4 separate regions of the Homo sapiens genome follow, and regions 1, 3 and 4 are each reported to be linked to region 2. The links are microRNA targets in miRTarBase. Many come from high-throughput screens and were not tested one by one. Region 2 holds a microRNA gene; each other region holds the end of a gene's coding sequence.

Evidence for each region. The annotated mature microRNA hsa-miR-5194 reads UGAGGGGUUUGGAAUGGGAUGG and lies in region 2 at 3,898-3,919, opposite strand. An mRNA with a match to its seed (bases 2 to 7 or 8) in the 3' UTR can be bound and repressed. Matches are read on the target gene's strand: a 7mer-m8 pairs with bases 2 to 8, a 7mer-A1 pairs with bases 2 to 7 and ends in A, and an 8mer does both.
Region 1: miRTarBase lists YIPF2 as a target of hsa-miR-5194. Seed matches in the 3' UTR shown: 7mer-m8 at 4,540-4,546 and 7mer-m8 at 3,705-3,711.
Region 3: the mRNA of SRCIN1 is a reported target of hsa-miR-5194. Seed matches in the 3' UTR shown: 7mer-A1 at 4,961-4,967, 7mer-A1 at 4,589-4,595 and 7mer-m8 at 4,526-4,532.
Region 4: miRTarBase lists RAP1GAP2 as a target of hsa-miR-5194. Seed matches in the 3' UTR shown: 7mer-m8 at 47-53.

The regions. Positions count from the first base shown.
Region 1 is chr19:10,918,610-10,924,443 of GRCh38, forward strand. It overlaps YIPF2 (Yip1 domain family member 2), which reads right to left. Exons shown (of 10, transcript NM_001321439.2): 6 at 5,467-5,583; 7 at 5,224-5,390; 8 at 4,886-5,068; 9 at 4,663-4,798; 10 at 3,584-4,565. The coding sequence ends at 4,682. It overlaps CARM1 (coactivator associated arginine methyltransferase 1), which reads left to right. Exons shown (of 16, transcript NM_199141.2): 9 at 986-1,071; 10 at 1,268-1,357; 11 at 1,827-1,964; 12 at 2,050-2,139; 13 at 2,225-2,337; 14 at 2,441-2,518; 15 at 2,766-2,834; 16 at 3,006-4,466. The coding sequence ends at 3,148. Among named protein-coding and RNA genes, the nearest start is that of YIPF2, 7.1 kb to the right of the region's middle. RefSeq lists a silencer at 2,423-2,602.
Region 2 is chr8:130,004,463-130,010,296 of GRCh38, forward strand. MIR5194 (microRNA 5194) reads right to left here and starts at 3,991; the gene lies at 3,872-3,991. The region is part of intron 1 of CYRIB (CYFIP related Rac1 interactor B); the gene reads right to left. All of the region lies in intron 1 of LOC124902025 (a long non-coding RNA gene), which reads right to left. It also overlaps the pseudogene RNU7-181P.
Region 3 is chr17:38,528,327-38,534,160 of GRCh38, forward strand. It overlaps SRCIN1 (SRC kinase signaling inhibitor 1), which reads right to left. Exons shown (of 19, transcript NM_025248.3): 19 at 1,705-5,105. The coding sequence ends at 4,971. Among named protein-coding and RNA genes, the nearest start is that of SRCIN1, 75 kb to the right of the region's middle.
Region 4 is chr17:3,031,204-3,037,037 of GRCh38, reverse strand. RAP1GAP2 (RAP1 GTPase activating protein 2) reads right to left here. Exons shown (of 25, transcript NM_015085.5): 24 at 4,589-4,627; 25 at 1-3,646. The coding sequence ends at 4,619. Among named protein-coding and RNA genes, the nearest start is that of OR1D5, 29 kb to the left of the region's middle.

The sequences.
Region 1 (5,834 bases), not on the chromosome of region 2:
AAGCGCACTGAGTGTGCACCGCCCACCTTGCCCTCCTGCACTTATTTCCCTTTGCTTTGACATCACAGCCCCTTGAATCCGAGCTGCCTTGGTAACCCTGAGCTCCCATTTTGCTTTCCCCACCCAAGGAAGCTGCTGAAAGGTCGAGGTGGCCGTTTTCTGCCCTCCCCATGGGGAAAAGGTAGAGGCCAGAAAGGGCTCCCTCCAGAAAGGGCATTTCCCTCCTTTCCAGGAGCTTGATCCCCAAAATCCTGGCCGCTCTGGTTGGTCACCAGTGCTTCCAACAACTGGTTTATTCTTTTCTTTGGATTTTATTCGGTTTACATAGTTCATGGCAGGTGTGTTAGTCGGATATAAACATTGCTGGGAGTGGACAGCAGCACTAGTGTTGTTGTTGTTTTTAAGAGACAGGGTCTCCCTGTGTTTCCCAGGCTTGATTCACACTCTCGGGCTTAAGCGATCCTCCTGCCTCAGCCTCCTGAGTAGCTGGAGTTACAGGCATACAATTCCACACCCAGCTAGCACCTAGTTCTTTAACTTGCTTTTTTGGTTAACTTGCTTAATGATTTAGCTTGGAGATCTTTCCTCATCTGTTCATAAAGAGCCTCTTCATTCTTTCTCACGTCCGCATGGTCTTTGATGGGAGAGCCATCACTGGTTTAATTAGATGGTTTCCAGTGTGTCGCTACCACGGACAATCTAATTATACATGTAAGTTTGTTGATGTGTTCATGTATCTGGAGGTTAAACTCCTGTAGTGCCAAATCTTTTATGTGGATAAACACTTGTCATTTGGAGAGCTGTCACCTGATTGCCCTCGGTGGCGTTGTGCCGGTCCCCTCCTCACGGCGTGTCTGGGAAGAGCAAGCTCGTTTTAGCTGCACAGCCTAGAAGCCGTGGGCAGACCTGGGGGAAGGGGCAGGGCTCTCCCCTCCCATGCTGGCCCTGGCGTCAGATGCCACGTCACACCTGTGGTCTCTCCCAGGACACATTTGACATCCGGATCCTGATGGCCAAGTCTGTCAAGTACACGGTGAACTTCTTAGAAGCCAAAGAAGGAGATTTGCACAGGTACTGGCACCCACACTCCATCCTCCCAGGCCTGGCTCAGGCCGAAGGTCAGGGCCACCCCTGGCTCCCGCCGGCATCCTGCCGTCCCAGGGCAGATGGTGGGCGGGGGCCCCAGGCCTCTGCACCTGGCACCCCCTCTTCTCTCTCGGCAGCGCCTGTCTGGCTTCCCCAGCAGCCACTGCCCTTTGCCTTCCAGGATAGAAATCCCATTCAAATTCCACATGCTGCATTCAGGGCTGGTCCACGGCCTGGCTTTCTGGTTTGACGTTGCTTTCATCGGCTCCATGTGAGTGCCGCAGAGCAGCCCATGCTGCCTCCTCCCCACTCCCAGGGCTTCCTGCAGCTGCAACCTGGCTGGGGGGGTGGAACATGGCTCCAGGTTCCACCATCCCTTCCAATGGGAGTGAGAGCCTGTCTCGGAGCAAGAGACTGTTGTGGGTGGGGTGTGTGTGTGTGTGTGTGTATGTGTGTGTGTGTCCTGTGTTCCCAGTGTCTGTCCCTCATGGGTCTGTGTCTGTCTCTTGGCACATGTCAGGGTGAGTAGGGATCTCGTGGTTGCGGGCCCCTCGTGTGTACATGTATGCCTGCTCATGTTTGTGTCTGGGACTGCCTGGGGGCCAGCCTGTCTCTGCTCCAGGGTCCCAGGGGTCCCTGGCAGAGGGGGCAGGTGCTTGGGGAGGACTCAAGGCATACAAGGTGGTGGCTCCAGTGGTGGCGCCGGCCCAGTCAAGTATGTGCCTGTCCCTGCTCCACAGAATGACCGTGTGGCTGTCCACAGCCCCGACAGAGCCCCTGACCCACTGGTACCAGGTGCGGTGCCTGTTCCAGTCACCACTGTTCGCCAAGGCAGGGGACACGCTCTCAGGGACATGTCTGCTTATTGCCAACAAAAGGTGCGACTGCTCCCTGGGGCTGGTGGTGGTGGGCAGGGGTCCATCTGCCCAGCAGCTCATGCCACGGCCTGCACCCTGTCCGCAGACAGAGCTACGACATCAGTATTGTGGCCCAGGTGGACCAGACCGGCTCCAAGTCCAGTAACCTCCTGGATCTGAAAAACCCCTTCTTTAGGTAGGAGGGGCCCCTTGCCTGCACAGGGGGGCGCCCCGGCCCTGCAACCCCCTTGCCCCTGCCCATGGCTCTGTCTCTGCCATAGATACACGGGCACAACGCCCTCACCCCCACCCGGCTCCCACTACACATCTCCCTCGGAAAACATGTGGAACACGGGCAGCACCTACAACCTCAGCAGCGGGATGGCCGTGGCAGGTGAGCAGGGCCCACCCCAATGCCCAGCCAACCCGGGAGGCCGCCCTCGCCGCAGGCCTGGCCCCTCTGCCTCCAGCCCTGACGTCTCCCTCTCTGGACACAGGGATGCCGACCGCCTATGACTTGAGCAGTGTTATTGCCAGTGGCTCCAGCGTGGGCCACAACAACCTGATTCCTTTAGGTGAGTGTCCCCCAGGGCCAGGGGCAGCAGGGAGCCATGCCCAGGACTGCCCAGGGGCCGGGAAGGGCCTGTGGTGACCAGGGTCGGCCTCTGCTTGGTCCTTTCACCTTTTCCTCTTCCTGGGGGCTCTCGGCCGAGGCTCTCCGTCCTCTCTGCCTCGCTCTGCAGCCTGCTGCTGTGCATGGGCTGGGTGGCTGGGGGCGGTGACGCCGTCTCCCTTCCTTCTTTCCTCCCTCTCGCTGCGCAGCCAACACGGGGATTGTCAATCACACCCACTCCCGGATGGGCTCCATAATGAGCACGGGGATTGTCCAAGGTAACGAGGGTGGCGGGGGCAGGGCCCGTGGGGGCCGAGCTAGCGTGTGAGTCGCCATCCTCTGTCCGGCCGCCCGCCTGCCCTCTTGCCTGCCCTTTCTCTCTCTCTGTGACTCTGCCTGGGGGCTGGGCGGGCCAGGGCAGCCCCTCACTGCCATTGCCTGCTCCACAGGGTCCTCCGGCGCCCAGGGCAGTGGTGGTGGCAGCACGAGTGCCCACTATGCAGTCAACAGCCAGTTCACCATGGGCGGCCCCGCCATCTCCATGGCGTCGCCCATGTCCATCCCGACCAACACCATGCACTACGGGAGCTAGGGGCCCGCCCCGCGGACTGACAGCACCAGGAAACCAAATGATGTCCCTGCCCGCCGCCCCCGCCGGGCGGCTTTCCCCCTTGTACTGGAGAAGCTCGAACACCCGGTCACAGCTCTCTTTGCTATGGGAACTGGGACACTTTTTTACACGATGTTGCCGCCGTCCCCACCCTAACCCCCACCTCCCGGCCCTGAGCGTGTGTCGCTGCCATATTTTACACAAAATCATGTTGTGGGAGCCCTCGTCCCCCCTCCTGCCCGCTCTACCCTGACCTGGGCTTGTCATCTGCTGGAACAGGCGCCATGGGGCCTGCCAGCCCTGCCTGCCAGGTCCCTTAGCACCTGTCCCCCTGCCTGTCTCCAGTGGGAAGGTAGCCTGGCCAGGCGGGGCCTCCCCTTCGACGACCAGGCCTCGGTCACAACGGACGTGACATGCTGCTTTTTTTAATTTTATTTTTTTATGAAAAGAACCAGTGTCAATCCGCAGACCCTCTGTGAAGCCAGGCCGGCCGGGCCGAGCCAGCAGCCCCTCTCCCTAGACTCAGAGGCGCCGCGGGGAGGGGTGGCCCCGCCGAGGCTTCAGGGGCCCCCTCCCCACCAAAGGGTTCACCTCACACTTGAATGTACAACCCACCCCACTGTCGGGAAGGCCTCCGTCCTCGGCCCCTGCCTCTTGCTGCTGTCCTGTCCCCGAGCCCCTGCAGGTCCCCCCCCGCCCCCCCACTCAAGAGTTAGAGCAGGTGGCTGCAGGCCTTGGGCCCGGAGGGAAGGCCACTGCCGGCCACTTGGGGCAGACACAGACACCTCAAGGATCTGTCACGGAAGGCGTCCTTTTTCCTTGTAGCTAACGTTAGGCCTGAGTAGCTCCCCTCCATCCTTGTAGACGCTCCAGTCCCTACTACTGTGACGGCATTTCCATCCCTCCCCTGCCCGGGAAGGGACCTTGCAGGGACCTCTCCCTCCAAAAAAAGAAAAAAAGAAAAAGAAAGAAAAAATAAATGAGGAAACGTGTTGCAGCACAGGCAGTTTTCTTCTCCTTCTGCTCCCCTGTTTCTCATACCCCCAAACTCAGATGCTGGAGCTCAGGCCCGCCGTGTGTGCACCCAGGCAGGAGCGGGCGCTGTCCAGGCTGGGCCGCCCCCTTGGCTCTCCCTCCTGTTCCAGGGGAGCCATAGGAGGGAAAGCAGGTGGCCCGGGGGGGATATGGGGGCCCCAGCCCTGTCCCAAAGCTCCCTGCTCGGCTGCCCCTCGCCCGCCTTTATATAAATTCTCTGAATCACCTTTGCATAGAAAATAAAAGTGTTTGCTTTGTAAGAAAAGTCTGGAAAGTAGCAGAATCATCTCAAGGTGTCAAAGGAGCCTTCAGTCATCGTCTGGGGGGCAGGACAGGCAGAGGGGTTGGTCCACTTAGGTGTTGCCTGAAAGAAAGAATTGTCTGGGAGTGGCCCCAGAACCTCTCGCCTTGACTGGGAGTGGGAGGGCAGCCCCCTTAGCCCAGCTGGGAATAGTCCTTACCTGTGGGACCCGGGCCTTCCTAGGAGGGGGCCAGGGACTGCGGCAAGGTAGGGGACAGCGCGATGTTTGAGGGCAGAGATGTGATTTGGGGTGGAGGAGCCACGTTCTCCGGAGGCAGCGACTGGAAGAAGTACAACTGCACAAGACCCCTGGGGTCAGAGGCAGGGCCAGCCCATGCCCCCCTAGCCCCTCGGCCCCACCTGTGGCCACCCCAGACCCGTACCTTACAGCCCATGGCCAGGAGGGCGTGGAGCAGCACGACCACGGACAGCAGCACTGTGGCCACCAGCCTGGTGTCCTCACGGACCACGGGCCAGAGGGTGAATACCAGCCCGGCGGCTGACAGGCCCAGGGCCAGCGCCCCAAAGAGCCACTGCAGCCAAGGCACAGGGATGAGCCACAGGACCTGGGAGCAACACGGCGGCAGGTGACCATGCCAGTCCCCCCAGCCACCACCCACTCTGCACCAGGCCACCCTCACCACCATGGGAATGAGGCGGCAGGTGACCATGCCAGTGTCCCCACACAGCCACCACCCACTCCGCGCCAGGCCACACTCACCACCATGGGGATGAAGACAAAGAGGGAGTAGCCGTAGATGCACACAGTCTCCAGGAAGGTGTAGGGCCCCATGCGCTCCTGGACACCCTTGCGCCACCGCAGGAAGCCCCACAGGGCCAGGGGCACCAGCCACGCATAGCAGTAGATGCTGATGCCTGCCACGGTCACTGGGGGGGGCAAGGTGAGCAGTCACCCCCTGTACCCCAGGGCCCTGCCAGGCATTGGGCCTGCCCGTCTGCTTACCCTTGTGGAACTGGGGGCTGTAGTGGATGGAGGGGTCCCTCCTCTGGGCCAGCACCAGCGTCAGGTTGCCAGTGACGGCCAGGACAAAGGCCAACGTGGCACAGATCCAGAAGGGGCCTGGGGGTAGGGGGCACAGTCAGGGTCCCGGGCCCTGCACTCCCAGGACAAGCAGACATGTATCCTGACTGAGCTGTGCTGAGACCCCAGCCTCTTCCTAAGCACCTTGCCTGACTCACCAGGACACCGGGGGCCTCCTGGTGGCTGAGCCCAGTGCTGGCTGTCAGTTCATCCCCCTCCCCGAAACACTCAGGACTGCACACCCTTGGCCTGTGTCTCACCTCATTGGTGCCAATTCCTCAACCCCTGTC
Region 2 (5,834 bases):
ATTTTAAAAACTTTAAATAATATAAAAGTGTATTTTGCCTATTGTATTTATTTGTATTTGTTTCTACAGGTTTTTTTGTTTCTTAGTGTGGGAAAACTAGAAAGCCTGCTGGACAAATTCTAAAAGAGCTATAGTACTCTTTTTTCTATTTTTTGTATATTGTGCATTGTACTTTATCGTATATTGTCTACTGCAGTTTCTTTTATGCATTGACTCACTGATGTTCCTGTACAGCGTCACACACACAACCAGCGCATGGAAAACCAACCTTCAGGAACAACTCGGGAGATTGTCAGGAATTTTTTTTTTTTTTTTTTTTTTTGAGATGGAGTCTCGCTTTGTTGCCCAGGCTGGAGTGCAGTGGCACAATCTCGGCTCACTGCAAGCTCTGCCTCCCCGGTTCAAGTGTTTCTCCTGCCTCAGCCTCCCGAGTAGCTGGGATTACAGGCACGTGCCACCACACCTGGCTAATTTTTGTATTTTTAGTGTAGAGACAAGGCTTCACCATGTTGGTCAGGCTGTTCTCAAATTCCTGACCTCGTTATCCATCTGCCTCAGCCTCCCAAAGTGCTGGGATTACAGGCATGAGCCACCGTGGCTGGCCAGGAATTTTTTATTTTTTATTTTTTGCCTACTGTGCTGACTTCTGAACTTCACAGAATTTTTTATTTTTTATTTTTTTGCCTATTGTGCTGACTTCTGAACTTCACCATGAAGATGTGACTCTGTTGAGCAGAGTTTCTTCTCCTTTGGTGCTTTTAGGTCTTGGGGGCACGTGTCTGTCTGTTAGGAACCAGCGGAAAATCAGCCCAGCTCGGATCAGAACAGGAAACCAGGACCCAGGCTGGTGGGTGCTAGGGCAGGGCCTTGTGGCTTCACAACCCGCCTCCCAGGGACAGGCTATCTGGTCAAAAGAACTCGCCCTCCTCACTGCTGGGTCCCTTAGCGGGCTTTCACGTGCCTGGCCTGGTCCCTCCTTCTTTAAATGAAGAGTGGCCTAGATGATTGTCACACTCCTGTGTGACACTGGACAACACACATCACCTCTCTGGGCTTCCATTGCCTCTGAACAGTCTTCCACCTTCGACTGGAATCAGAGCCCCAAAAGCGAGATTCTAACAAGAGGTTACATTGTGTGAGATACTGACCTCCTCAGCATCTAGGGTGATGGGGTCCCCGGGTGGGTCACCTCTAGCTGGGAGATGCTTCCTCTTTCACAGCTCCATCTGTGCCTTAAAAATTAAAAGCTGGGAACCTATAATTCCAGCACTTTGAGAGGCTGAGGCAGGAGGATCACTTGAGCTCAAGAGTTCAAGATCAACCTGGGTAACACAGTGAGACCTCATCTCTTAAAAAAAAAAAAAAAAATGTAAAGGCTGGAAAAGATGGGACTAGGTGATCTCCACTGTCCTTTCCATCTCACACCAGCCACCCCACGCCCAACACCCTCAGAATAGATGACAACGGGCAGATTACCCTTAACAGATATTTCTCTAACCCAGTGACAGGGACCTCTGCATCAGAATCACTTAGAATGCTCATTAAAAATATGACTCCAGGCTGGGCGCGGTAGCTCATGCCTGTAATCCCAGCACTTTGGGAGGCCAAGGCAGGCAGATCACTTGAGGTCAGGAGCTTGAGACTCACCTGGCCAACATGGTAAAATACTGTCTCTATTAAAAATACAAAAATTAGCCGGGCATGGTGGTCCACACCTGTGATTCCAGCTACTCAGGAGGCTGAGGTATGAGAATCGCTTGAACCCAGGAAGCGGAGGTTGCAGTGAGCCGAGATCACGCCGCTGTACTCCAGCTTGGGTGACAAAGTGACACTCTGTCTCAAAAGAAAAAAAGAAGAAAAAGAATCTGGCTTGCCGGGTACAGTGGTGTGCACCTATAGTCCCATCTACTTGGGGGGCTGAAGTGGGAGGATCACTTGAACCCAGGAGAGTGAGTCCAGCTTGAGCAACGTAGCAAGACTCTCATCTCAAAAAATAAAATAAAATAAAATAAAATAAAATATATATATATTTATTTATTTGGGAGGCCGAGGCAGGTGGATCACCTGAGGTCAGGAGTTCGAGATCAGCCTGGCCAACATGGTAAAACCCCGTCTCTACTAAAAACACAAATTATATATATATACATATATATGTGTATATATATACATATATATGTGTATATATATACATATATATATGTATATATATATGTATATATATACACACATATATCTGGAACCTCCCACCCAGGAAGTGTAAGCACACCCAAGGTATGAGCAGATTAAAGAAATCCTGCAGAAGGGGGAACACATGCATAGAGTATGCTGGCAAGGTCACATATAGAAAATGGGTGGGGGGACTTGAAAGCAGAGGTATAAATCCTATGTGCACCTTATTTGCTCAAGTCTACATGGACCAGCATCCAAACATTGAAATTTTCCTTTCAAATTCAATCCCCCAGAGTGTATGGTCTCAGGACCCTTCTTTCCCCCAAATCTTTTCTAGTGGGGATGCATGTATGCAGACAATGCAAAGTGCTACAAATCGCAACACCAAATGCATCAAGAGGTAGATTATTAGTATGAGTCAGTTTCACACTAACTTTACCAAAAACCTCACTGCTCACATTAGCTCAAGTAATCTACTTACAACCACAATTATAAATTCTGAGCTTCCTTGGCTGACGAGTTTGCAGTAGGTGGTTCTTGGCCCTGAGGGCTGCTGAGATGCCCGCCGTTATGAGATGCCCACTGAGAAAACCACCGCCCTCTCCCAGCAGGGTCCAGCAGGAGCAGTGTCTGCTCTCGGCTACACAACTCCATTCATAGACTTTTCCAGTTACGTTTGAGGTTCACCCAAAGGAGGTAGTAAAAACAGGAGGTGGGCACTGAAGCTGGCCTGGTATGTTTGAATTCCAGCTCTGCTTTTTATCAGCCTCCAGGTTTTCTCAGTTTCCTCATCTGTAAAACGGGAATAATATTACCTGCCTCACAGAGTTACCATGAAAGTAAGAAATAAAATATTCAAAGTATATGACATGGCTGGGCGCAGTGGCTCACGCCTGTAATCCCAGCACTTTGGGAGGCCGAGGCAGGTGGATCGCCTGAGGTCAGGAGTTCGAGACCAGCCTGCCCAACATGGTGAAACCCTGTCGCTACTAAAAATACAACATTAGCTGGGCGTGGTGGCACAGGCCTATAATCCCAGCTACTTTGGAGGCTAAGGCAGGAGAATTGCTTGAACCTGGGAGACGGAGGTTGCGCTGAGCCGAGATTGCACCATTGCACTCCAGCCTGGGCAACAAGAGCGAAACTCCATCTCCAAAAACAGCAACAACAACAAAGTACAGGACACTTGCTCCATGCTCCATAAAAGAAAGTTAATATTGCCATAAAGGAGACCAAAAAAATCACAGAAACCCACGACGTGATCCTGATGGGAGCCCTGTTAAGAGGGGCTTCCAGGCCAGGCATGGTGGCTCACGCCTGTAATCCCAGCACTTTAGGAGGCCGAGGCGGCCAGATCATCTGAGGTCAGGTGTTCAAGACTGGCCTGTCCAACATGGTGAAACTCCATCTCTACTAAAAGTACAAAAATTAGCCAGGTATGGTTGCGGGCGCCTGTAGTCCCAGCTACTCGGGAGGCTGAGGCAGGAGAATTGCTTGAACCCGGGAGGTGGAGGTTGCAGTGAGCCGAGATCGTGCCACTGCACTCCAGCCTGGGTGACAGAGCGAGACTCTGTCTCTAAATAAATAAATAAATAGAGGGGCTTTCTGCCAGGTCCATAGCTGCCTGCACACATAGTCCAGAAATGTGACCTCACTCCCTAGCTCCTGCTCCACTCGCCACCATCAACCTGCTGGCCTGTCATTCATGGTGTCTGGTGACTCTCCCTGCCATCCCATTCCAAACCCCTCAGAAAAGCTTATCCAATTCCTGAGTGAAAAGAATGGGCCTAGAAGGGCTGAGTTTAAGTTAACCCAAAGAAATAAACCCAAACTCCTTCATTCTCCAAGCTGTTCAGGCCTCAGGGACATGTGTGGGGTGACTGTGGGGCACACACTATCATTCCCCATGTGGATCCATCACGGGGCCTAGCACACAGGAGGTGCACACTCAGTGACTGTTCTGTTGTTGAATGGCAGGATGAATCTCACTCCTCCCTCAAGACCTGAAAACTTGAGAGTTATGAAGGCATGTTTAGGAATGACTGTAAAATACCACTTTTCAGAAAACACAGAAATCTCCATTTGATTCTTTCATTTGCAAGCCTGTTTGATCTGTCTACACACTGGTTGGTCTCTCGTGTCCCAGAAGCAGAGGGCAAGACACAAAACCAGAGTTCAGGGGAGCAAAGCAGACATTTTAGGAAGTTATTGCCCAAGTTTCACTTCCACGTCGTCTTCTGCATTCTACTTCAACTCTGGTTTTGAGCAAAGCTGGGGCTGGTGAAGAAACTTCCCTTAGTCTACATGTTCCTCTCCCTGAGTCCCAGCACTGAGGCTCTGTAGACCAGGGACTCAAATTACTGAGCACTCACTGATGCTAGACCCTATGTCAGGCATATTCAGACATCTTCTGACCTAAGAGCCACAACAAGCTGGAAAACAGACACTGAGATGCCAAGAGAGGTTATGCAATGTGCAAAAGACTTCACAGTCAGGGAGTCGGGTCTGAATCAAAGATCTCCTTGGCTCCAAGGTCCTTGCTTCTCAACCTGCCACTGTCCTTTTTCAAAGGCGCCAACCACTAACATGGCAAAGTGTTTCATTTTTCATAAAGCCATCTGAGGAGTTCAAAAGCATCTTTTTTTTTTTTTTTGAGACAGAGTTTCCCTCTTGTCACCCAGGCTGGAGTGCAATGGCACAATTTTGGCTCATTGCAACCTCTGCCTCCCAGGTTCAAGCAATTCTCCTGCCTCAGCCTCCCGAGTAGCTGGGATTACAGGTGCCAGCCAACACGCCCAGCTAATTTTTGTATTTTTAGTAGAAACAGGGTTTCACCATGTTGGCCAGGCTGGTCTTGAACTCCTGACCTCAGGTGATCCACCCGCCTCGGCCTTCCAAAGTGCTGGGATTACAGGTGTGAGCCACTGCGCCCGGCCCAAAAGCATCATGAAAAACTGTCCCCCTGCATTAAATTCAGATCCCATCTCTGCCAGAAGGATAGCCCTGGACAAATCATACAGCTCTCACCCACCTGTGACTATGCCCCATGGGAGAAGGACGTGTATATGGAGGCTTTCTGCTAGACTATGCTAGATGCTTTGATACACATTATCCCACTCAATCCTCCAAACATTCCAGGGAAGCAGGTGATAGTAGCCCAGCTTCATCAATGACAATTCTGGTTCTGCAGTGGGATGTGATTTGCCCAAGGTCATGCAGCGCTGAGAAGCAGGCCCAGGGCTCCATCAGCCCTGCCATGCAATAGGCTTTGTTGAGTGAGCACTGGATGTAAATTCCAAAGAGCTTAAAGCGGCCAGACAGAGCCAGTGACAGGAGACTCTATTAGGCAGATGAGGAAAGAATGGAGCTTTTCTTCCTCCTACCGCCCAAGCCTTTCCCATCCTTAACTCCTCTGCACAACGGGGCCCTCACTGTCCTTCCCCCACCTTCTTATCAAAGGATGCTGGTGCTGGGAGGGGGAAAAGACAGAAAGAGGATTAGTCTCTGGCATGGTTTATGTTGATTTCAAAGCTGTCACTTTTCCCACATTGGGCCTTCTTTTTCACTGTGGATTTAAGTGCCTAGTCCCCTGATGAACGAAGGTCAAGGGCAGAGGTACATTTTGAACTAGAGAAAGTCCTCAGCATCCTCCTGCTCTCACAGCC
Region 3 (5,834 bases), not on the chromosome of region 2:
AGCGCCTCACAGGGAGTGCATCCTGGATAGGCATCTGGCGGGTGAATGAGTGCCTGCCTCCTTCCAGGCGTGCAGCGGATGGTTCCGTTTGTTACTTGATCTTGAACTGTCATGAGTGCAGTGATTCTGGGAGAGGGGGTTTTTTGGCTCCTCTCCCAGTTTTTGGGGAATAGGATGGCAGAGAGAAGGCAAGATCTGCCGACATTCTAAAAAGGACATAGGGATGGGCTACGGGCAGGCTGAGGACTGGCTTTCTGTGAGTCTCAAGGGTTGCTGGGCTTTGGTGGGTGGGTGACTCATGGAGGGGCATTCCCTGCAGACAGTAGGCAGGTTGCTGCCCTCTGTCTCCAAAGAGGTCTTTAAGAGAAGGAAGCGCAACTGGGGCCCCTGTGATGACTGGAAGATTGTGGCTCCAGGACACAGTCACTACCTTCAGGGATGGAAGTGAAGTGATGCTGAGGGGGGAGAAGAGATTCAGTAACATGCCAGCCCTCAGCCACGCAGAACAGCTGGAAGGCTGCCTCGGGGACTCTTAGAACATGCTGGAACAGTGGCACAGCCTTCAGAATTCCGGGAAAGCCTGTAAAACCCAATCAGGACCCATGGCATACACCATGGTGCTCTGTGTAGCAGGTGCTGCTTTGCTGTGGCTGTTTGTGCATATGTGTGTACATACCTAAAGCATAGAGGTGTCAAATGCATTTTGTATTGTTACCACTTTACGGGTTTGAAAGCTGCTGCATCTAGAAAAGATGTTTGTGGCCGGGCTCGGTGGTTCACGCCTGTAATCCCAGCACTTTGGAAGGCCGAGGTGGGCAGATCACTTGAGCTCAGGAGTTCGAGACCAGCCTGGGCAACATGGCGAAACCTCATCTCTACAAAAAATACAAAAAAATGTAGCCAGGTGTGGTGGCAGGCACCTGTAGTCCCAGCTACTTGGGAGGCTGAGATGGGACAATTACCTGAGCCCAGGGAAGTTGAGGCTATAGTGAGCTGTAATCATGCACTCCAGCCTGGGTGACAGAGGGAGACCCCGTCTAAAAAAAAGAAAAGAAAGAAAAGATGGGTGGACCCCCACCAAGGGTCATCTCACTCAAAGGGCAGGAGGCTGAGACCCAATTCAGGGGACTACTGGAGGTCATCAGCCCTGCTTGGTTTCAGGGTAACCGTGGGCTTTGGTGTCAGGCAGAGCTGGATTCAAACTTACTGGTTTGTCTACAACCTACCAGTTGTATGACTCTGGGTAAGATGCCCAACATCTCTGAGTTTTGTCACTTGCCTGAGTAGGTAGTGCCGGTAGCTACCTCACCGATGGTTGTGAGGGTTAGGCAGGACACCTCCTGGAATGCCAAGCTGAGAACTGGTTTTTTTTGTTTTGTTTTTGTTTTTTGAGACAGGTTCTCGCTCTGTCATCCAGGCTGGAGCGCAGTGGTGCGATCTTGGCTCACTGCAACCTCCACCTCCTGGGTTCAAGCGATTCTCATGCCTCAGCCACCCGAGTAGCTGGGATTACTGGTGTACACCACCCCACCTGGCTAATCCCAGGGGCCCTGTTCTGTCCTCCCCCTCATGCTCTGCCAGCTGAAGGCCAGTGGCTGCCAGGGATTCCCCACCTGCCACCCCACCCATCCCAGCACCTTCCAGATCCTCCAGGGTGAAGCAGAGAAATAATGAGACATCAGCCTATAGGAAGGAGATCCAGGAGAGGAAAAAGAAACAAGTTTTATTAAAGCCCCAAACACTTGGCTAGAAAAACTGAAAAGGAAAGAGAGCAGGGAGCGGGGGAGAAGAAAAAAGGACATTAAAAAAGAGAGACAGAGAAAACACAGCAACCCTTTTCCATTTAGAAATTGTCAAGTTACACCGACAGAGGTCACAGAATATCCACAGAAGCCATCACTGCTACACCAACATGGGCCCTACAGGGTGGATGGGGCAGGGTGTGGAGCCGGGGCTCACCCCGGGGGGCCCCCTGGGGACCCCACTCAGAGCCTCAGGCCTGAGGCTCCTGGGGAAACAGCATATTGTGGAAGGGGCAGGAAATCCCCCATGCGAGTAACACAGCACAGTGGGCGGGGGCTGAGAGGACCAGGTACAGGGGTCCCCCGAGACGTCTTAGTTTTCTCTTGGTCAAGCACACACTGATGGACAGAGCAGCGAGGCGCATGCAGCTGGGGGCACTGATGTGCTGCAGGCTGTGAGAGGGCCAGCGGGGACGGGGGCTCAGGAAGGGATCTGGAGCCAGTGGTGCAGGGATGATGGAACACACGCACACAGAGGCACACCCACACACTTGGGTCTGCACCAGCACACATACCTGCACACACACACTCGGAGACACAGATTACATGCACCTCCATGTATGCGTCTCTATCCACATGTACGTGGCCCACACACAAGTCTCTGGCTCTCGGCATGTCTGCACACACATTACACATGTTCTCACACACAAAGCTCCTCTCACGCTAACATGCAGGTAGGCACGTGCCAATGCCCAAACAGGTTACATGCACCTATGTGCCCACGCCTTCCCCCACACATGTGCTCGGCCATGCCTGTGGGTGCAGGCCCCATGCGTCTGCACACACAGTGCATGGGCTTGTGCCAGCACACACACAGGCTGCACGCAATTCCACACGGATGCCTCCCAGCCCATAAATGTGCAGGAACCAAAGAGAAAGAAAGATGCAAATCCCACTGGGCTTCACCCGAGCGGGTGGGGCGGGGCACGTGGCTCCCTCCTTCTGCCCCTTCGTGGATGGACACTGCCCCCCCCACCTCCCCCACAAAGGGACATTCAACTCAGGACAATGACGGTGGGGCACACATTCCAGTCACAGGGCTGAGGGTGGGAGCTGGGGGCAAGCGAAGTAGCAAGCAGAGAGTAATGGAGTGGAGGGAGGAGGGGGCACCACTCCCCCCTCCCCTCCCAAGTCAGGGGGTCTCTGTACAGCCAAATCAAACCAGACCATTTCACTGGGACCACAGAAGCCAGGCCGACGTGCCCGCCCCCCAGCCCCCCTCCCCCGCCAAAACAGTGGCCAGGGAGAGTGCCGTGGTTTTCTTTTTTTTTTCTTTTTTAAATATTTATATATATTTATATTACGTATATTATATATATAATATGTAAATATATTTTTAAAACAATATAAAATGTTAAGACACTTCACTTAAATGTAAAGAGTTGCCTGCAATTAAAAGTAATTGCATCATTTATGAGGTCCTTTTTTTTTTTTCTATTTTCCAGGGTTTTTTTTTTTTTCCAGGAGGGATTTTTTTTTTCCTCTTTTGTTATTTTTCAAAAAGGCTTGCTCGCCTTGGTACAAAAATGATCCAAAGCTAGAAAACAAGGATGAACCAACAAAGGCAAAAACAAAAAAAGAAATGAAGAAACACAACCCGTTTCCCCTCCCCCCAAACCTTCAACAGCTCCCAGCTCTCCCCAGGTGCGGACCTTCCCCAGCCAGGCCCCAGGGTCTGGGGGGCTCTGCCTTCTGCGCAGCTCCTCCTTTCTGTGCTTGCTATGGGGGACTGATTCTAGTCCCCCTCCCCTGTGCTTACTTCACTTTGTGCTCCAAGTGGGAATCCTGCGGCCGGGGACCCCGCTCCTCCTCCTCCTCTTCTCCTATCCTCTCCCTACCGGCTCCTCACTGTGCCCTCTGGGGGGCCAGGAGTGAGAACCAAAATTGGCCTCTCTCTGCCTCCCCAGGACCCGGCCAAAAGCCAGGCGGCACTGCCAACCGCCTCTGCAGGGCAGGCAGGGCGTCCACAGGCCAGGGGCGCTGGCTGGATGGTCAGGCCTCAGGGACCTTCAGACATCTCACCAGGGTCACCAGAGCCCCATTGAAAAACTACGTCTCATCCTTTCCTGGGAAAACCCTCAAATTGCCAAGAGGATGACTGAAGTTCAAGTCACCCCACCTGCGGGTCCCAGGTGTCTTCAGTGCTCCCCGTCAAGCCCCTCTCGACCCTCCCATTTCCCTCAAACCAGACCCTTCCCCCAACTGCAAGCCACAAAACCTGGTTTTCTAGGCCCCTCACTCTTGCCCACCCCATCCCCATTCAATAAGTTAATGCCATTTAAAGTGCTAAATCAGGAAACTAAAAGTACCAAATACCCGTCCGGGCCGCCCTCTCCCAAGGCAGTGTCCCCGATATCCGGCTGTCCGTGCAACCCACCCTCCACAGCCAGCAGACCAAAGGGCCTCTGCCCTCCACTCCCCACTGGACGGCAAGGCCCAGGAGGCCAGCGCCTCCCCAGGGATACAGACTCCATGGCCTCACACCCACCCTGAGGCCTCTCAAACTCCGGCCTCGTCTCCAGCCTGTCCGTCTCTACTCCAGGCCCACTTGGGTGTGAGTGGGAGGAGGCAGAGCAGCCACAGAGGAAGTCACAGTCTTGTCGGAGCTTAGACAGGGAGTGGGGCATCTCCAAGGCCAGTCTCCCTAAGCCCCGCTCTCTGGCTTGATGTATGGGTTGGTCCGATGTCCCCGCGTTCCTCCAGGAAGGTATCGAGAAACGGGAGAGGGGTCTCCCACTGCTCCAAGTCTCCGTGGTTCAGAGTTTGTTTGGAGTATTCTTGGGAAGTGAGGGGAAGGCGGGAAGGGGGTGCAGGAGCTTCAGGATGGACTGGGGGAAAGAGTGGTGAAAGAGAAGAAGGAGAGATGTGACAGGTGCGGCCAGCGAGAGGCCAGCTGGGATCAAGGAAGGTGGTGTGTTTGGTTTTTAGTTTTACTGTTTAAAAAAAGATAATTAAAAGTTAATTGTTAAAAAAAAAAAAAAAAACAAAACCAAAAACACCAACAGATGATGGGTAGGGGTCGCTGAGGAGGGCCGCACCCTCCTCTTCAGGGCACACCCCTCAGGGCGTCTGGAGAGTAGGGTGGGGTGGGGTGGAGATGAAGGAAGAGAGGGGAGAAATGGCAGGAGTGAGGGAGGGGGACAGGCGGGGCAGCGGGGTGAGGGGCTTCTAGAAGGAGATGGAAGAATTCCTTGCCCCAAAGGAAGTCAATACAGGGATAGAGGTTCTGGAAGCCGAGGGCTTTTCTGAGACTGGGCTCGAGGTCTCATTCGACCCGCTCATCTCTTTAGATGGTTTAGTGGCCTGGAACAAAAACAGGGGTCAGGGGTCAGAGAGCGGAAGGGAGCGCCTCCATGCTGGCCCCCAGCTGAAGTTTTAAAAGTGGAAAACCTCCACAAATCCAAGGAAATTAACTGCAAAAGGAAGAAGCCAGAGGGGCATCTGGAGAGAGGGGTCCCTTGAATGGTGGAGGGGTGGGGGCAGAAAAGGGGGGGGAGGGGGCACGAGGTTGGACAAAGGGCCTGGGTGGTCAGAGGGCAGGCCCATAGTTACTGAGAGCAGAGAGAGAAGCAGAGCGACCAGAGAAGCACAGAAGAGGCCGCGCCCAGGATGGGCAGATGGGGAGGTGGGGGTGGGGGAGGGCAGGGGAGGGGAGGAAGAAGTGAAACATTAGCTGGGACAGGGGCACAAGCCCTGCGGGGGACGGGGGTCAGGGTGGGGAAAGGCTCCTAGTCCCAAATGGCCCGCTGTACAGCCAGAGCCCCTTCCAGCTTCATCCTGGTGGCAACAGAGGAGGGGGCTTATCCTCCCAGGGGGGAATAAACACTTCAAAGACCCCGTCCACCACCACCACCACCACCACCTGGAAATCTGAGAAGAAGGCGCTGCCGCACCAGCCTCCCGCCCAGTGCAGGAGGCCCCACTGCATGCCCTGCAAGCACTTGTCGCCCCAGTTGGTAACAGGAGGCTACTCCCTCATGACTTGTCCTGCCCTCACTGGTCAGTTCTAGTGGTCAGAACTGACCCCTCATC
Region 4 (5,834 bases), not on the chromosome of region 2:
CTCCCCTTGCCTCGATACAGGGTAGCTAGAGGCTGGGGGAGGAGCCGAGGGGTCCTGAGCATGGCTGACTGGCCTGGTCCCTGCTGGCCTCCTGTACCCATGAGATCTACTCGAACCCCCAACTGCTTAAAACAGATCTGTCTCTACTGACTTAGAAACCAATGAGAAAGGTAGTGTTTGAGTTGGCACCTGGCAGGGTCAGGGAGGAAAGCGAAACAGGCTCTTGTCCTGCCTTGTCACGGGAGCCTGAGTTTCTATTAACCACCTTCGTTTAAGAATCAGGGAGAAATGAAGAGTTTTTCTTTGACCACTTTTCCTCTTAATTTAGGAAAAGGGAAGCTGAGGGTGGGTGAACAGCATCTTTTTCCCTGGCCTCTGCCCCCATTACACAGCCCCCATCAGGAGCTGAAGAACCGATCCCACTGAGGAATAGTTCACTGAATCCCTTTCCCTCCTCGTTTTCTTGGTTCAAGCTGCATCCAAAGCCCAAGGGTCCTCACTGAAAAATCCTAGAGACTATCCCCCCTGATGAAAAAGAGCAGAAACTGCAGCCTCACCAGCATCCTTGACTGCTCACCTCCATGCCAGTGCCAAAGCAGCAGCTAACTGGCTTCCCCAAAACCCAGGGCCCCAGGAAACGCAGCCACTTATTCAACCAACCATGTAGGCGCTGCAGAGGAAGGGACCCTGGGTTGAGGGTTCTAATCCCAGCTTTGCCAACAGCCAGCTGTGTGACCTCAAGCAAGTTACTCCCCTCACCTGGGCTAAGATTTCTCATCTGGACGATGACATGGTTGGATGAGATGCTAAAAAGAGCCAGCAGGCTTGTGTTGAGATGATGCTGACAAAGCTGAACCACTGAATCTTTTTCAAGAAACGTCATTTTACATGATTGGCATAGACAGACACTCTCATTAAGACCTTCCATCGCGAGCTTTTCTGCACCTGTTTTTAAGCGTCAACTGAGCTGGAGGCATATGGGTGACCCTACAGTGCCTGAAAAGTAGTTTCTTCAGTGAGTCAGGCAGTTCCCAGAGCCAGAGATGTGTCCCGGAAAACATCCCCTCGTGGAGATCACAGTGGAAATGCCTCAAACACCAGCGTGAGCACCATCTAGATGAGCCTAGTCACGAGGGCCAATGAGGTTTGGGCAAATCTTTGAGCCCCAAGACTGGGCGCAGCATAAAAGGAAAGACATTTTAGATCAGAGCAGATGTAGGGACAGCGTGGGGGAAACAGCCCTCCAGGAACCCGAGCTGCCCGCCCCGTGGTCTAGGGGAGGGAGGGGAGGCTGGGCCATCCTTGTTCTCCTCCTCCCTCTCAGCACTGCCCGGGTGGGCTGGAAGTGCACACTCTGGAAGCCACAGGATGGAGCTCCTAGAGATAGTGAGGCATGACCAGAGGGAAGAGGCATTTGGGGTCCTGTTCAGATCATTCCAACAGCAAACCGGGCATGGAGACCCCATCTCAGGTCTGTGCTTCTCTGGGGGCCACCCAGCCATCCTGCCCACCAGCTCAGAGGCAGGGACAAAGCCCTCCCAAGAGGCAGCAGGCAGCAAGGGTCAGCCAGCGCAGTGGGGACAGGCAGGTATGGGATTCCCAAATGGGACAGCATGGTGACAACCTGGAAACCCCAAAGGACCCCAGATGGCAATGTGACACGGCCCATCCACCAAGCACCTGTAATGCCGGCTTCCCACAGAGGCGAGCCAGATCCTGCAACTGTTCTTAAAGAAATGCAGTTTGACCTTGCCAGTGCCTCCAGAAGCCCAGCCAACAAAACGCGTCCAGAACGTACAGGCCTCTTTCCAGCCGTGGGGGCTGCTACGGTGACTCTTCATAAAAGCTAAACAGATATTTTGTTGACCTTCTAACAAGAATAAATTTTACTAGACTAGTACTTTAGAGAAAGTACTAGCAAAGGGAGAGCTCCTCTCCAGCTTGCAAACAGGACTCAATCATTCCCACACACGTGGCGGGGAAGAAAGATCACAATGTTGCTTGAATGGCAAAAGCTATAGGGAGAATTTCACAATGTCAGTTAAAAAAAAAAAAAAAAAGTGTAGTATTTATATCTTGGGCACAGGTCCAGATCCCTATGGGAATAAAGCATTCAGCTGGAAATCCTTGTCATTGGTCGTGGGGCAGGTGCCCAGCCAGTGTCACTCTGCAGCCCCGTCTGCACTGAAAGGGGCTCTTCAGGCTCGTTGTACCTGGAGGATGCCCACCTTAACCCCAACCCGGGCCCATCGGCAGAGAAGCCCACGGCGCTGCAGACTCGGAAGGGGGAGAAGCCAGGAGGGGATGTCCTTGGAGGTGAGCTGGCTGTCCCAGCAAGGGGGCTCTGTGGAGGGTGGGGGTGGCATGTGGGTCACAGGGTCTGACCCACACCCAGATGGGGTCCAGGTTGCAGAAACCCTTCAGATGTGACAGCTGCCTACAGACCCGCAGCTGGAGAGGGGAACAGGATTGGGGGGTTGAGCCCCAGACGCAGCTGCCCAAGGGCACAGTAGCTGGAAAAGGCCCCAGGGCCAGGCTGGGCCCCCCAAGACTCCAGGGGCGTAAGCTGCTGAGGGACACTGTGCCCCTTCCCCACCCAGGGGCCTGATCAGAACCCGCAAGTCATCCCCCCCTCACCTCTCTCCTCGAGTAAGTGGGGAGGGGAGATAACGACGTCTTCCTTGAACCCCCATTGTCAGCAGAGACCTGGGCTCCGGCCTGGCCCTCAGGCCCGAGGTTTTCCTCAACCAACACAGCAGCATCTCAGCACTGGCTCCTTTGCTCTCCCTGAATTCCTTCTCACTCCTGGCTTCCCACCCCTTTGTGGGAAAATATCTTCTCAAAGGGAAGAGACTGCCTCGGGGCTGCCCCTCCCTCCCCTCACCCCACAGCAGCCATAATCAGGAGAAACCGGGTGGGACCCAAAGTCCCCGCCTCAGTCCAGGAAGTGTGCAGCGCAGTTCTGGCCCGTCCAGCTCTGGCTCTGAGCTTGAACTGGCTGGAGCCCCGCTCACGGTACACTGGCAGCAGGGGCAGGGCAGCCCTGGGCCTACGTCAGCAGATGGGAAAGGCGTTCAGCACAGAAGCAGATAGACGGTTTAGAGCTCCAGAGCTACGGGGGCAATAGCGCCGAATTTTATCAGGATGGCCTCAAGGATGCTACGAATCTTGGCTCCTGGGAACATGGGGCCTCCACCACCGAGTGCGTTCCTGGTAGTAAAGCCTGCCACGTTCAGGAAGGCACTGCCCTGTGGCCAAGACCCTCACCGAGGCTCTGCTCCCACCCCCTACTCTGTCTCTGAGGCAGACCAGCTCCCCAGTCACTGCTGAGCTCCCCCCAGATCCCCCTTTGCCCGACACTTTTCCTCTCCAGGATGAATAGGATGATAAAGGACCCGGACATCACACTGGGAGGTCAGGAGCAGGAGGAACCTGAGGAAGGAGGCCTCGTCCAGAGATGGGAGGGGCTGGGAGGGCATGTAGGTGAGGGCGGAGGCAGGGCTGTGGCCAGACTGGGACACCTGGACCAACAGCACATCTGTGGGCACGTGGCCATGGGGCAGCAGGGCTGGGACTGTCAGGGTCGTGGACGGCACTCCCAAACTGCTGGTACAGGAGCCTTTTCCAGGACAGAAGAGGGGATTCCCTGAGGAGACAAGGAGGAGGCGGCGATGAGCGAACATTCCGTACAGGAAGGAGGGGACGACGCGGACGTCGGGAGCAAGGGGTGGGGAACACGCCTGCCCATGGCTACAGCTCACTGGATACACTCAGGAGCAGGAGGGCACCTGATGTAAGGGTGCCCCACCTTGCGTGGCCCGAGAAGCTGCGCATAGCCACGGCTTTGGTGGGCAGTGGCGTCCAGAGTGCGTGATGGGAGCCGGGGGTGAAGGTCCATATGCCCATTTGTCTTCTGCTTTTTCATAAATCAGGTTGAACACAGAGTGGGTTCGGTTGTACCCCTCCTCTTGGCTCCAGCTGTGACTCTGACCCCTGAAGCCCCATGTGGGGAGAGGGCTGGGAGCTCAGATGGGTCTCTGGTGACTTCCCCAGCAGAAATCCAGGCCTTGATGGGGGCGAGCTGGACCCACGGCCACTCTGCTCAAACCACGTGCCCCCTCAAAGCAGGCAGGGGAAGAGGCCTCCTGGGGTGGTCCCTCACAGTGCTGACTCCCGACAGGGAGGGAGAACACACCTCAGCCCAGGGCCTCCGCCAAAGACACAAGGAGGGAACAGCTGCCTGAGGGCAGGGGAGCAAGGGAGCCCTCAGGAACTCCTCCCTCCTGGGTCAGAAGCGGGCTTGGGCGACTCCCCTTCTGCCTGCGGGAACCAGACCCCATCGGTGGAAGGGAGGCCTAACTAGTACGTCTAGTCCAGTGTCACTGGGAACCCCCTTCCCATCCGCACACAGGCCATCTGCCCCTCCTTCCCCATTGCAGGTCTTCAGGGGCGAGTAGGAGACTCTTTGGACATCCCCAGCTGGCGGCATCTCTCCGGCCATTCTGAGGTTACAAGGCCTCTAGTTCCCTGATCTAAAAGAAACACACGTCCCCCCTCACGGCCACAGCAGGACATTCACTCAACCCACCTTGGACAGGCGAAGGACTCCACTTTCACATTAGTGACCCTGTTTCAACAAAAATCCATACAGGAGTTTAAATAACCAGACAGCACAGGTCCCTTCCACGGCGGCTCTGTGCACTCAGCTCTCAACAGTCTGGTGAGCTCAGGAAGGGATTCAGGACCCCAGGAACAAGCACTTCCCACCTCACATCTGGACCTGGAGTTCTCGATAGTCTGGCGAGCTCAGAAAGGGACTGGGGGACCCGGGAACCAGCCCTTCCCACCTCACATCTGGACCTGGAGCTCTCGATAGTCTGGAGAGCTCAGGAAGGGATTCGGGACCCAGGAACCAGCCCTTCCCACCTCACATCTGGACCTGGAGCTCTCGATAGTCTGAAGAGCTCAGGAAGGGATTCGGGACCCAAGAACCAGCCCTTCCCACCTCACAACTGGGCCTGGAGCTCTCGATAGTCTGGAGAGCTCAGGAAGGGACTGGGGGACCCAGGAACCAGCACCTTCCACCTCACATCTGGACCTGGAGCTCTCGATAGTCTGGTGAGCTCAGGAAGGGATTCGGGACCCAGGAACCAGCCCTTCCCACATCACATCTGGACCTGGAGCTCTCGATAGTCTGGAGAGCTCAGGAAGGGACTGGGGGACCCAGGAACCAGCCCTTCCCACCTCACATCTGGACCTGGAGCTCTCGATAGTCTGGTGAGCTCAGGAAGGGATTCGGGACCCAGGAACCAGCCCTTCCCACCTCACATCTGGACCTGGAGTTCTCGATAGTCTGGCGAGCTCAGAAAGGGACTGGGGGACCCAGGAACCAGCCTTTCTCACCTCACATCTGGACCTGGAGCTCTTGATAGTCTGGTGAGCTCAGGAAGGGATTCGGGACCCAGGAACCAGCCCTTCCCACCTCACATCTGGACCTGGAGTTCTCCATAGTCTGGCGAGCTCAGAAAGGGACTGGGGGACCCAGGAACCAGCACCTTCCACCTCACATCTGGACCTGGAGCTCTCGATAGTCTGGAGAGCTCAGGAAGGGACTGGGGGACCCAGGAACCAGCACCTTCCACCTCACATCTGGACCTGGAGCTCTCGATAGTCTGGTGAGCTCAGGAAGGGACTGGGGGACCCAGGAACCAGCCCTTCCCACCTCACAACTGGGCCTGGAGCTCTCGATAGTCTGGAGAGCTCAGGAAGGGACTGGGGGACCCAGGAACCAGCACCTCCCACCTCACATCTGGGCCTGGCCGTGTCCAGAGGTG